Regions from separate parts of the Homo sapiens genome. Here region 2 is linked to region 1. The links come from fine-mapping of genetic effects on gene expression. Tissue or cell type: whole blood. Region 1 holds a variant in brackets; the other region holds the start of a gene. Each region is shown on its reference strand, or each on the opposite one. Region 1 overlaps RREB1 (ras responsive element binding protein 1). Region 2 holds the start of AGAP2 (ArfGAP with GTPase domain, ankyrin repeat and PH domain 2).

Region 1 (5,368 bases):
TAATGACTCATGTGAGTTGTTATGTCACTTTGGGAGCCTTTGTAGTTTGATGCAATACTTTCACATCATGGATTGTTTTCTGAATTTAGCATTAATAGGGACCTTCTCATGGGGACGTCAGCCTGGCAGTCCTAACCAACTGTAAAGGTGACGCACTTACCAGTGTGAAAATTACAGAGTAAACCATGTGACAGGGGGGAGCGAGAAGCCGATTGTTTTCTTTGAAATCAAGAATCCTATCATAGTAGCTTCTTACTTGTTTTCCTCTTGGCCCAGTTCTTTTCTCAATCTGGCCAGACTCAGAGAAGCAGCAGTGTTACCTTTTGACAATAAAATGTTAAAAGTACTTTATTTTTACTTGAAATTATTAAATACTGTGTTCAATTTTAAATGAAAAACAATAAGTAATTTTTTTCATTTTATTTTATTTTTGAGACAGAGTCTGTCTGTCGCCCAGGCTAGAGTGCAGTGGCACAATCTCTGCTCACTGCCACCTCCGCCTCCCAGGCTCAAGCAATCCTCCCACCTCAGCCTCCCCAGTAGCTGGGATTAAGGTGTGCACCACCATGCCTAGCTAATTTTTGTATTTTTAGTAGAGATGGGGTTTCACCGTATTGGCCAGGCTGGTCTTGAACTCCTGGCCTCAAGTGATCTGCTCACCTTGGCCTCCCACAGTGTTGGGATTACAGGCGTGAGCCACCGCACATGACCACAAGAAGTAATTTGGAAGACGCACCATGAACACTGACATACTGTACAACTAGTCACACTTTTTTTTTTTAATGTGGATGTTTTAAAAATAAATTTTGCAGAAAACACCTGCAGAATGATATGAGGAGACCCTGAAAACAGTCAGTGGGGTTCTCCACTTTTGTTCAGGTTGCCTTGTGGAGCTACTCAGAAGCACACAGGCCGGATTTCTGGGTGTCTGATTCTGCCCTTTCCGGGTTTCTAATTCTGTTGTCTTTGATTGTTGCATCTTTATTCTTAAAAGCGCCTGAGGAGATTTGTAAGCATCATCTTAAAGGGTCTTTTAGCTCAGGAGGGAATCAATGTCCCCTGTCTCTGATTATTACTCCTGATGTGAAATTGTGGCCATGCTGTCATGGGGGCGGTGCCAGGTCCACACCTTCAGGCTCTGTATGAATGGCGCCCCCTGGAGTCGTGTGACACAGCCAGTGCCGGTTAAGGCTAGTCCCTCCTTCCCCTGGGAAAACACGTGGCCCCTCTGGCTGGTCCCCAGGTGCCAGGCCCTTGCTGTGCATTCACAGGGGAGTGCGTGGCCTTGGGCACCTGCACTAGTTCAGGCTTCTATCGACATTAATCTAACGCCAGAGGCCCCTGTGATCTGTGTTTCCAGGGAGCTGTGTTTAATTGTGGCAATCCTAGGGTTATGAGACAAAAGTACTGGGCCCCAGCTCTGAAGTCATGTTGGTTAACACACAAAACCTTTTACCCTGTAACATTAGCAACTGGGACCTTGGACTCCAGCAACTTGGGGGAAAGGGAGGAATTCAGTGATACACAAGTGATGCACCACCAACTTCCGCCTCCTGAAGGCCCCTGATCCCCTCCCTCCTCCTCTCTTTTCCTCTCCACCTCCTTTTTCCCTTGTGCTTTCTTTCTCCCTCACATGCATCCGCACAAACCCAGGACAAGTTGTAGAGGAGCTTCTATTGCATTTTGAAACATGATGTTTACAGCACAAAAGGAATCCAAGTAAAAGGAGAGGGTAGGCAGACCAAAGCAGGAGGGGACTGTGCCTCTCTCAGTGGCTCACCCATCTGTGCGTTTGGGATGGGTCTAGGGGCGAGGCAGGGCTGCCAAAATGTCCTCTTCACATGCACATCTGTTGAGTGGAGCACATGATCAAATGCAGACATAGTTACGTATTGGTCACTCATTTGCAACCAAGCTTGGAGCAGGGGGAACAAAGAACCTTTAATGAGAAGATCTCCTGACTGTTGCCACCTAGGACCACAGTGAACTTGAACAGAGGTCACTGCAGGATGTCTCGGCAAGTCAGACAGGAGTTGTCCTGGGAAGTCAGAACTCACTGCTCCCGTTCCCCTGTGGGAGGGACACAGCCACCAAGGCCAGGAAGGGGGACTGGCCACCCTGGCTGGGGGCTGTCCCTGACTTCTTCTCTTCATGGGCCCCCAAAGATACCCAGGGGTTCCCCATTGGATTTCCTAGTGTCCATATTACGGTGTCCTTGCCACACTAGAACTCGTTAGAGGGCGTCTTTCTCTTTGTGATAGAATATAGGTGTTTTCTTGCTGTGCTCTAAAATCTCTTCATTCGCTTTTTTTTGTTGTCGTTAATATTTTAATTGTAATACCGTTGTTTTACTTTAAATGTATATTTTTCAGTTTCATTTATTTTAGTATTTTGAGGACAAAAATTCATATTCCATTCAACTTAGGAAAAGGGAGAATGATCATTTTAGTCATTGATGGTTTTTTTTTTTCTAATGTGTTTTGTTAATTTTCTTGAAGGGATGGAGGAGGGGGGAACA[A/T]CTGCCAATGATCCCAGGAGAATAAACAAAAGCGACTTTTCTATTTCATTGCAGTAGAAAGCCAGATAAATATATATTTTTTTTCCTGCTTCAGGTCAGAAACCCTTCCCTTGTCAAAAATGCGATGCCTTCTTTTCTACCAAATCTAACTGTGAACGCCACCAGTTGCGCAAACACGGAGTTACCACCTGTTCCCTGAGAAGAAACGGGCTTATCCCCCAGTCAAAAGAGAGTGATGTTGGATCCCATGATAGCACAGGTAGTGCCGCCAGGTGAACAAGAACCCAGGAAGAGGGAGAGAGAGGAGTTCGGTTAAGAATTGTAGCAAACTCCAGTCCGAGCTGTGGAGGGGCTGCTTGTTCACTTCTCTGTAGGATTCAGAGCCCACAGCCTGTTAATAGAAAGGCAGGCCCTGCTGATGATTGGGAGGGAGTATAACTCCTGGGTCAGATCGCCTAGACAGACAGCAGAAAACAGTGACAGTGCCCCTCGGTGACTCTCGGGGCTGCTAGGGAAGATCTGTCACCCTCTTGGCAGAAGAGGCCTTTGTTCCCGATGTTGGGAGGTGGGATGTATGGGAAGGCTTACAACTTTAGCCCTGGGTATGAACTCATCTAAAGGGGATGTGAAACCTAAAGGTTTGGGGAGCCTTAGCCGCTGCAGCCTCCTCGGGAGCAGGCCTGGGCTCCCTGGGATATCAGGGTATTGTAGGAACGAGGGGTGCGGTGTTCTTCTTTTCAATAACTCTCTTCCCGGTGTAAGACTGTCCTTGTTTGAAAAAGCACTGTGCATGTCCTTTCTTTAATCACATCTCTGCTTGACCTGAATCCGGGTATTATTCTCCTGTGCTGATGTGTGCTTCCTCCCTCCAGCACCCACAGAGCAATTAACGGCTGCCCGATACGTCTTGTGCCACCTTGTTTCCCTTATAGTTTCTGAATTTACTCATGTCCTCTATCAGTACACTCCATCCGCTCGGACTGCTGGGGTTCTCCATCCTCACCCCCAAGAGCAAACAAAACGAAAGCCAGCCTGCTGCAGGCCACTTAGATATCCCGCCAGTTGGCACTGATTAGTAACAGGGACAGCATCATGGTGCTGGGTCCAGTTTTGCAAGTCTTGAAAACCTGACACTATCTTGTGGCTGCGAAGAGATCCCCCCAGCTGTGTTTTTTTAGGGTTGTATTTGCGTCCTGTGGCTTCTATTCCTCAGACTAGGGTGGAGATGGGGTGCCCTGTAGTTACGAGGCACCCCTGCCTCAGGAGTCAGTGTGGAAGAGGGTTGGGCATTAATCTTAGCCCCTTGTCCTTACCTTGGTTACAGGGGTACAGGGTGTATCTGAAGTGGAGAGGCCACCCTTTGCCCATCTCTACGCCTCCCACTGAGCCCTAGTGAAACCAACTGTGAGTGCTCTTGACTGCCCAACCGCCAGTCTAGATCAGATCCTCTGAGGGTATGAAAGGGTAAGCTGGTTTGTTCACTGCTTCCCCAGCTTCCACTTCCACATAACTCACCAGTATCTTTGAGTGAAGAAAGATGTGGGTGCCCACGGAATCTTAGCCTAACTTGGACCCCTGTGAGCCAAAGATGACCTGGAGTTCAGCCCACTGGAAGCGCACACCAGTGCTGGCAGGCACGCGTTTGCTGCAGACCATCCTGTTAATGTTTAACCATCAGCCGCCACATTACCTGTTAGTCTGGAACATTTTCTTTCATCCTGGTTTAGAAAGCTGCCCTGTGATCTTCCCATAGTGGTTCCACAGTAGCGAAAGCAGCCGGTAACTGAGGGAGCTGAGGGGGAGCCCTTGGGTTTCCATGTTTACAAATAAGTCTTAGTAACTCCGTGCTGGATGTGCATTTTGCATTCAGCTTCTTTATCATAAGGGAGGAACAAAGACTGGGGCTCCTGCTGACATCTGCAGACACAAAGCTGAGTCGGAATTTGTGGTCTTAGCTTCGGTTCAGCACCAAGTGTATTTATAAGTTTGCAGTCATAGGTTTTGTTGTCCAAATCCCAACAAAGCCCTTTCCCACCTCCACCCCACCCCGGAAGTTATATAGGGTTCCTTGAAGGGACAAAGCCTCTAGAAAAAGAAAAGTCACTGAAAGTTGTAATGTGAAACCAGCAAAGAGAAAATACATGTTTGGTTTAGTTGTGGTCACAGTCCATGGTGAGAAAAGGGACTGAGATTTAAGTGGGAGGGAAAAGTTTAGGGAGGCAGAGTTTAGTGATTTCAAGGAGGATTTTAAAATGCAGATGAGCATGATGGACATGGGGTGAAGCCTTCATTCTGGGTTCCCCCCCCCCAGTGAAGTTTAAAAAGTGAGGCTTTGAAGGAAGACCACTTAAAAAAAAGGGGGGGGGGGAAGGAAATGACCAAGGAGGTCCTTGAGGGGTTTTCTAGGCTTGTATGCCTAGGTGGCATTTTCTTAAAATTCCTACACATGTTTTATAATGTAGGTCTGACATTTTTCAGTCTCATAAAGTCCCCCAAAAGAATGCTAAAAATGCCACAGTGGGGGCAGTTCTCCCTTAAAGGTCCATTTTGAATATTCAAATTTCAACTGAAATTCTTCATTCACTGTCCTGGACAGAGAGGCAGCCTGGCCCCCTCTGCCCTTGAGGGATATGCCCTTGGTCCTTCCTCCGATGATGCCCCGTCTTTGTGTTTGTAGGCACCTACATAGGGCTGTTTTTAATTCGTATAAACATGAAAGTGTTTAAGCTCTCCCTTAATGGTGGCCGCCTTTACCAGCCCAGAAGTCCCACATGTCAGCATGGACTACACCTCAGGAAACCCTCTCCATCCTCAGATGCTTTGGGTGGAGTGCAGACACAGCAGCTTCCC
Region 2 (5,368 bases), not on the chromosome of region 1:
ACATCACTAGCCTGCTCTCAGCCCAGGGGACGACTAGTCCCTGGCGAGAAGCTGCCTGCAAGGTCACTGTCATGCCACCTGCCCCAAGTGCTCAGGGGAAACTGAGGCTTCCTCATCCCCTTCACCTTCAACGTCGCTCTAAACACGGCAAAGCCCCGTTTCCATGCTCCCAGAGTTCAGCTGAGGCTGGAAGTGGGGTCCTGGGCTTCTCTGGGAGCAATTTTCTAGTCACTCTGATCAAGGACGTTACTTTCCCAGAAAGCTCTGAGGCTGAGTCCCTCTGAAATCAAGTCCTTTCTCCTGTCGCACAATGTAGCTACTCGCCCCGCTTCAGGACTCCTATTCTTTGCCCCAATCCTTGACAGAGGGGTGAGCTTGGTTCATCCGCCCACCCCAGAGAAAAGCTTCCCTAGTTTCCTGGACCTCGCTCCTCCACCCCAAGCTGAGCATTCCAGGTACCCTTCCCTCCCTGTTCTCAAGCCCTGACTCAACTCACTAGGGGAAGCGCGGAGCTCGGCGCCCAGCAGCTCCCTGGACCCGCTGCCAGAAGACAGGCTGGGGGGTCCGGGAAGGGGCCCGGAGCCAGGAGGCCCTCCTGTGCTCTTGGTGAAGATGCCGCTGATAAACTTGAGCATCTTGCGGTCACGAGTGGATGCTCGGCCCCCCTCCCGGCCCCGTTTCAGCCCCGGAGCTGGAGGCTCCAGAGTGATTGGAGGTGCAGGCCCGGGGGGCTGCGCGGAAGCAGCGGTGACAGCAGTGGCTGGACTCGGAGTTGGTGGGAGGGTTAGCGGAGGAGGAGAGCCGGCAGGCGGTCCCGGATGCAAGTCACTGTTGTCCAAGGTCTTACTCTTGCCTTTCCGAGGGGACAACTTCCCTCGGGCTCCAGCCCCAGCCCCGACCCCACCAGAGGTCGAAGCTGTAGAGCCCCCTCCCCCGGCGGCGGCGGCGGTGGCGGCGGCAGAGACCGAAGCTCCAGTCCCGGCGCTGCTCTTTGACCCCTTGACCCTGGGCTTGCCCTCGCTTTCGGGCCATGACAGGCGGCTACCCGCGCCCTTGCCCCCGCCGGCTTTGGCTCCACTCGTGGTCACGGTCTTGCAAGGCTTGGGAGCCGGCGGAGGAGGCGCCACCTTGAGCCTCCGGCTGCCGGTGCCAGGGTGCGGAGAGGATGAGCCAGGGATGCCGCCGCCCGCCCGGCCTTCGGGCTCCGGGCCGCCCCAGCTCGGGCTGCTGAGCAGGGGGCGCCGGGAGGAGGTGGGGGCGCCCCCAGGCTTGGGGTCGGGGCTCAGTCCCCCGGAGAGCGGGGGTCCCGGAGGGACGGCCCAGAGGGAGAGGCGGCGGCCGGGAGCGGGGGAGACTGGGCGGGCCGGACTGGCCGGAGCCGGGGACAGGGCTGGGGGCTCCGCGCCCCCGGTGCCCGCGCTGCTCGTGCTGATCCACAGCGCATCCTGCCGGTGGAAGAGACGTTCGTGCCGCTTCTTGCCCGGCTCCTCCGCGCCTCGGGGGCTGCCAGGATCCCCAGTCTCGGAGCCTCTGGCACCGGCGGCGCCGGCCGCGGCCGCAGACGGAGAAGGCGGCGGCGGAGGCACCGACTCGAGCTTAACCAGGGTCAGCGAGATGAGGTAGGTCGTTGTCCGGCGCTGAAGCGCGCCCGCGCCCCGGCTCATGGGGCCCGGAGACCCCCGAGCTGGGGAGGGGAGGGGACTCCCCCGGACTGCCTCAGGGGGGCCCGGCCATGGGGCCGCCCTGCTCGCTGCCCCCAGCCCCCGGACCCCGCTGAGCCCCCGGCCCGGCTCCGCTGTCGCCGCCGCCTCCGCCGCCTCCGCTTGCGCCCCCCTCCCATCACATGGGGCGCCCCCTCCCCATGCTCCCCGCCCTGCGCCCCCACCCTCTTGGAGCCCCGGGACCTTGGTGCTGCTCCAGGGAGGCGCGCCGGACCGTCCACCCCGGCCTGGGTGGGGGCGCTGAGATGGGTGGGGGAGGGCGGGGAGGACAGTAGTGGGGGCAAATGGGGGAGAGAGAGGAAAAGGGAGCAGAAAAGGGGACCGGAGGCTAGGGGAAACGAACCTGTGCGGGGGAGGCAGGGGCGGGGAATTGGGACTCAAGGGACAGGGGCCGCGGATGCGGTCGGAAAGAGGGTCTAGAGGAGGGTGGGAAGCTAGTGGGGCTGGCCGTGCGGGGGATTCGCAGGGGCGCGGGGAGGATGCTGGGGATGGAGATACAGGAGGCGGCGGGGGAGGAAAGAGGGAACGGGAGGTGGGTGGGAACCCACGGGTCTGGGGTCTGGGAGGGGAGGGGCGTGAGATCCGGGCGAAGAGTCCGGGGGCCTCGCCTGGGCTCGGCTTGGTCCGGATGCGCGCTGTGTCCGGGCGCTCCCCTCACATTGAGGAGGAGGCGGCCCCCAGGCCCCCCCACCCTATCTCCCCCCCACCTTTTCTCCACCAGCACCGATGTCTGCGAGGGCGGTGCAAAATCCAGGGCTGGATTTCTCTCCCAAATCCTGGGCTGGATTTCCTGGGACTTGGACTCACCTCCTCCAACAACCTAGCCCCCTCCTCTCGCGCACCAAGGTTAGGAAGCGCGATTGTGAGGTATGGCATTTAGGGATAAGGGTGAAAATCGATCTATTGGGTGGACAGGGGCCGCGGTAAACAGAGCAAACCCAGGGTCACTGCCAATTCTGGGGAAGATGAAGTGGGAAAGTGGGGGCCCTGAAATCCCTTCCCCCAGGATCTCTTGTCTCCCCCAGGTACCTGGACGGTTCCCGTTCTCATGACCCAGCTCCCTTTCCCACTCACACCACCACATTTAATACTTTGACGGGGCCAAGACTTGAGCTCGACTGTCCCAAAGTGAACTTGGAAAATGTTCCCCAGGGATGGGGACAAACATGGAACTTAGCAGGGTAGGAGAGAAGGGAGAGATCTGAGTGCTGGAGGAGCCCAGGCCACAGGGTAAGTCAAAGGCTCCAGCTCTAGGAGGAGGGAGAAGGATGTGTCTTAGACTGATACCCCCCCATGCCAAAATGCATCCAGTCTCCATAGCAACCGTAGCTCCAAGAGTGCCTCAGAAACAGCGGGCAGAAGCAGAGAGGAATCCGTGTGTATGGTGGGTAGGGGACCAACCGCGGGATGCTGAATTAGTGGAGGCACTGCCCTGACACCTGGCTACCCACAGGTGGAGGATTTCACTCCCCAAGTATAAGGACCCTTCAGTTGAGGCAGTGAGAGCCGGCCTCTTCAGGGTTCCCTTTCAGTCTCCTGAGGTTTGCTGAGTGGGATTCTTTCAGAAGATTAAAGAGGAGGCAGGCAGAGTGAATGGAAACCGTCTGCTCCGTGTCCCCCACCCCTCTAGGGGTCTTGGAGTTCAAGGCTCTCTATCCTCCAGCCAGGTGAGAATCCTGAAGTGGTTAGGCCAAAGTGGAAAAGAGGTTGAGACCCCTTGGGGGTGGGGTAAGATGGGCGAAGGAAGGTCTCTCTGCAGCCTTGGAGACCCCTTCCCGGGACTTGGGGAGTCACAGCAGTCCCCTGATTTGGCGTCCCACCCTCCTGACGCAGCTGAGACTATAATAAGTGCTGCCGTGGGCGGCTCTTGGAGGCAGGAGCCCGCAGCGTGCTTGGCCTGGTGGGGGGCTGAGGGTGGGGGGGCTGAGCCAGGATGCCAGGAGCCCTTTGTTCTCCCAGAGGCCTGTATCCAATCCCTCCAATGTTCTGTCCTGGGGCTCAGCAGTTTCTCCCTCCCTCCCTACAGAACCAAGATGACACCATCCCCAGGACAGGAGACCCTTCAGTAGTGTTTTTTGATGGAGAGGGTGAAGGAGAATTGTTGGCTCTGGCTTAAACTTCCCTCCTTTGATGGCCTCGGTTTTCCTTTATGTTCAATGGGAACAGAATACTAATTCTTAGAGAAGGAGTAAAACAAATCACTTATGAGGAGTGAAGCCTTCTCAGGGATTTCCACCTCCACCCCTCCTCACCCTCCTCCCTCTCCAGAGCTAAGCACAGCTTTTCTGCCTGGCCTAAACCGCTCTTCTCCTTTATTATTATTATCATTATTATTTTTGAGAGGGGTGGGGCTTAGAGTTTCTCCCTAGGAGGCCCCATGGCCCACTCCCCCTTGGTCTGCCTTTCCAAACACTAAGGCTGTCAGGGGAAGCTTCAGGTGTAGTTCCTGGCAAAGGGTATGGGACAGGAGGTGAGAGGGGCACTAGCCTCCGAAGAACAATGGGAAGGGGATCATCAGACTGTCCCACTAGGCATCCAAAGCAAGCTGTTCCTTCCCCAAGTTATACTCTGGTGTACTAGCAGAGAGGTCTGGCAGGAGGTGTCCTTGAGGGAAAGAATGATCTCTTGACAACCACCCAGGTAGGCAGGTAACAATGGAGAAGACTGAAATGGCTGGAAGAGATCAGGATATGATGGAAGAAGTGTTTCCACCAGACACCTTTCATGAGCAAAGAAGGCTGCTTTTGTTAGCTCTTTGCTGCATCAGAGGTGAATGGAATGACAGCGAGCTGGAACAACCTCCAGTTCCACCAGTTCCTCAGTGGTAGGGCCTTGTGGATGGAGAGAAGCTGTTCCTGCCAGGGCTCCACCACAGGACTGAAGCCTGGGGTGGGCAGGAGGATGTGGCGGATGGTGTTGCCATGGCAGCATTTCCTCCCTGTGTTGTCATCACTTGCTCTAATGGCACTAAGGAGGTAGAGCGGAAGGTGTGTGGGGGGAAGACAGGAACAGGAGCAAGGGGAGGAGAGGGGACCAAGAAGAGTTCTGGGGACCTATCTGCACTTTGGCTCTGCAGAGCATAGTGTGTGAGAGTTAGTATGCGCTTGGGAGCCTGAGATTCTCTGCATGGTGTACTTCAATGTGCATGCGTGTGTGTGTGTGTGTATGTGTGTGCATGTGTTTCTCTCTACAGCTGGAGAACAAGAGGTCACTGATCCTTTGTGGGTCCTGGGAATGAACTCATTATCCAGTCCCAGAACCTGCTGCCCCAGACTGCTTCCTGCTCTGGACTCCCCAGGCAGGGAACAAGTCTACCATGAGTCTGTCACAGCCTATCTTCCCCATGCTCACACATTTCTTCATTGCCAAGAAGGTCAGCTCAACAGGGACCTGTATTTTGATCTCCTGGGAGAAGGATCAGAGCAGGGAAAGAGAAAGAATGATACCTCCCATGTCTTTTTCCATCCTCCCTAAATGTATTCTTTCCCAGAGTCCCATCTTGGGGACTAGGAAGTAGCTGACTGGGAATTGATATATGATACAGCTAAACCTTCTATGCACCTGCTAGTCCCTGATACACCCAAGTTGAGGGCTGACCTTTCTCTTACCTCGAATGCTGTCCAATGAGGCCTGGATGCTGTCCTGGA

The links. PIP is the estimated chance that this variant, and not a neighbour inherited with it, causes the effect.
Region 2: AGAP2 starts here. The variant in region 1 is fine-mapped to the expression of AGAP2 in whole blood (TOPMed, PIP 0.99).

What each region holds. Positions count from the first base shown.
Region 1 is chr6:7,237,826-7,243,193 of GRCh38, forward strand. RREB1 (ras responsive element binding protein 1) reads left to right here. Exons shown (of 13, transcript NM_001003699.4): 11 at 2,613-2,777. Among named protein-coding and RNA genes, the nearest start is that of SSR1, 73 kb to the right of the region's middle. The variant A/T (reference allele first, on the strand shown) is at 2,519.
Region 2 is chr12:57,736,583-57,741,950 of GRCh38, forward strand. It overlaps AGAP2 (ArfGAP with GTPase domain, ankyrin repeat and PH domain 2), which reads right to left and starts at 2,160. Exons shown (of 19, transcript NM_001122772.3): 1 at 497-2,160. The coding sequence starts at 1,664. RefSeq lists a silencer at 1,313-1,532 and enhancers at 4,706-4,785, 5,319-5,368.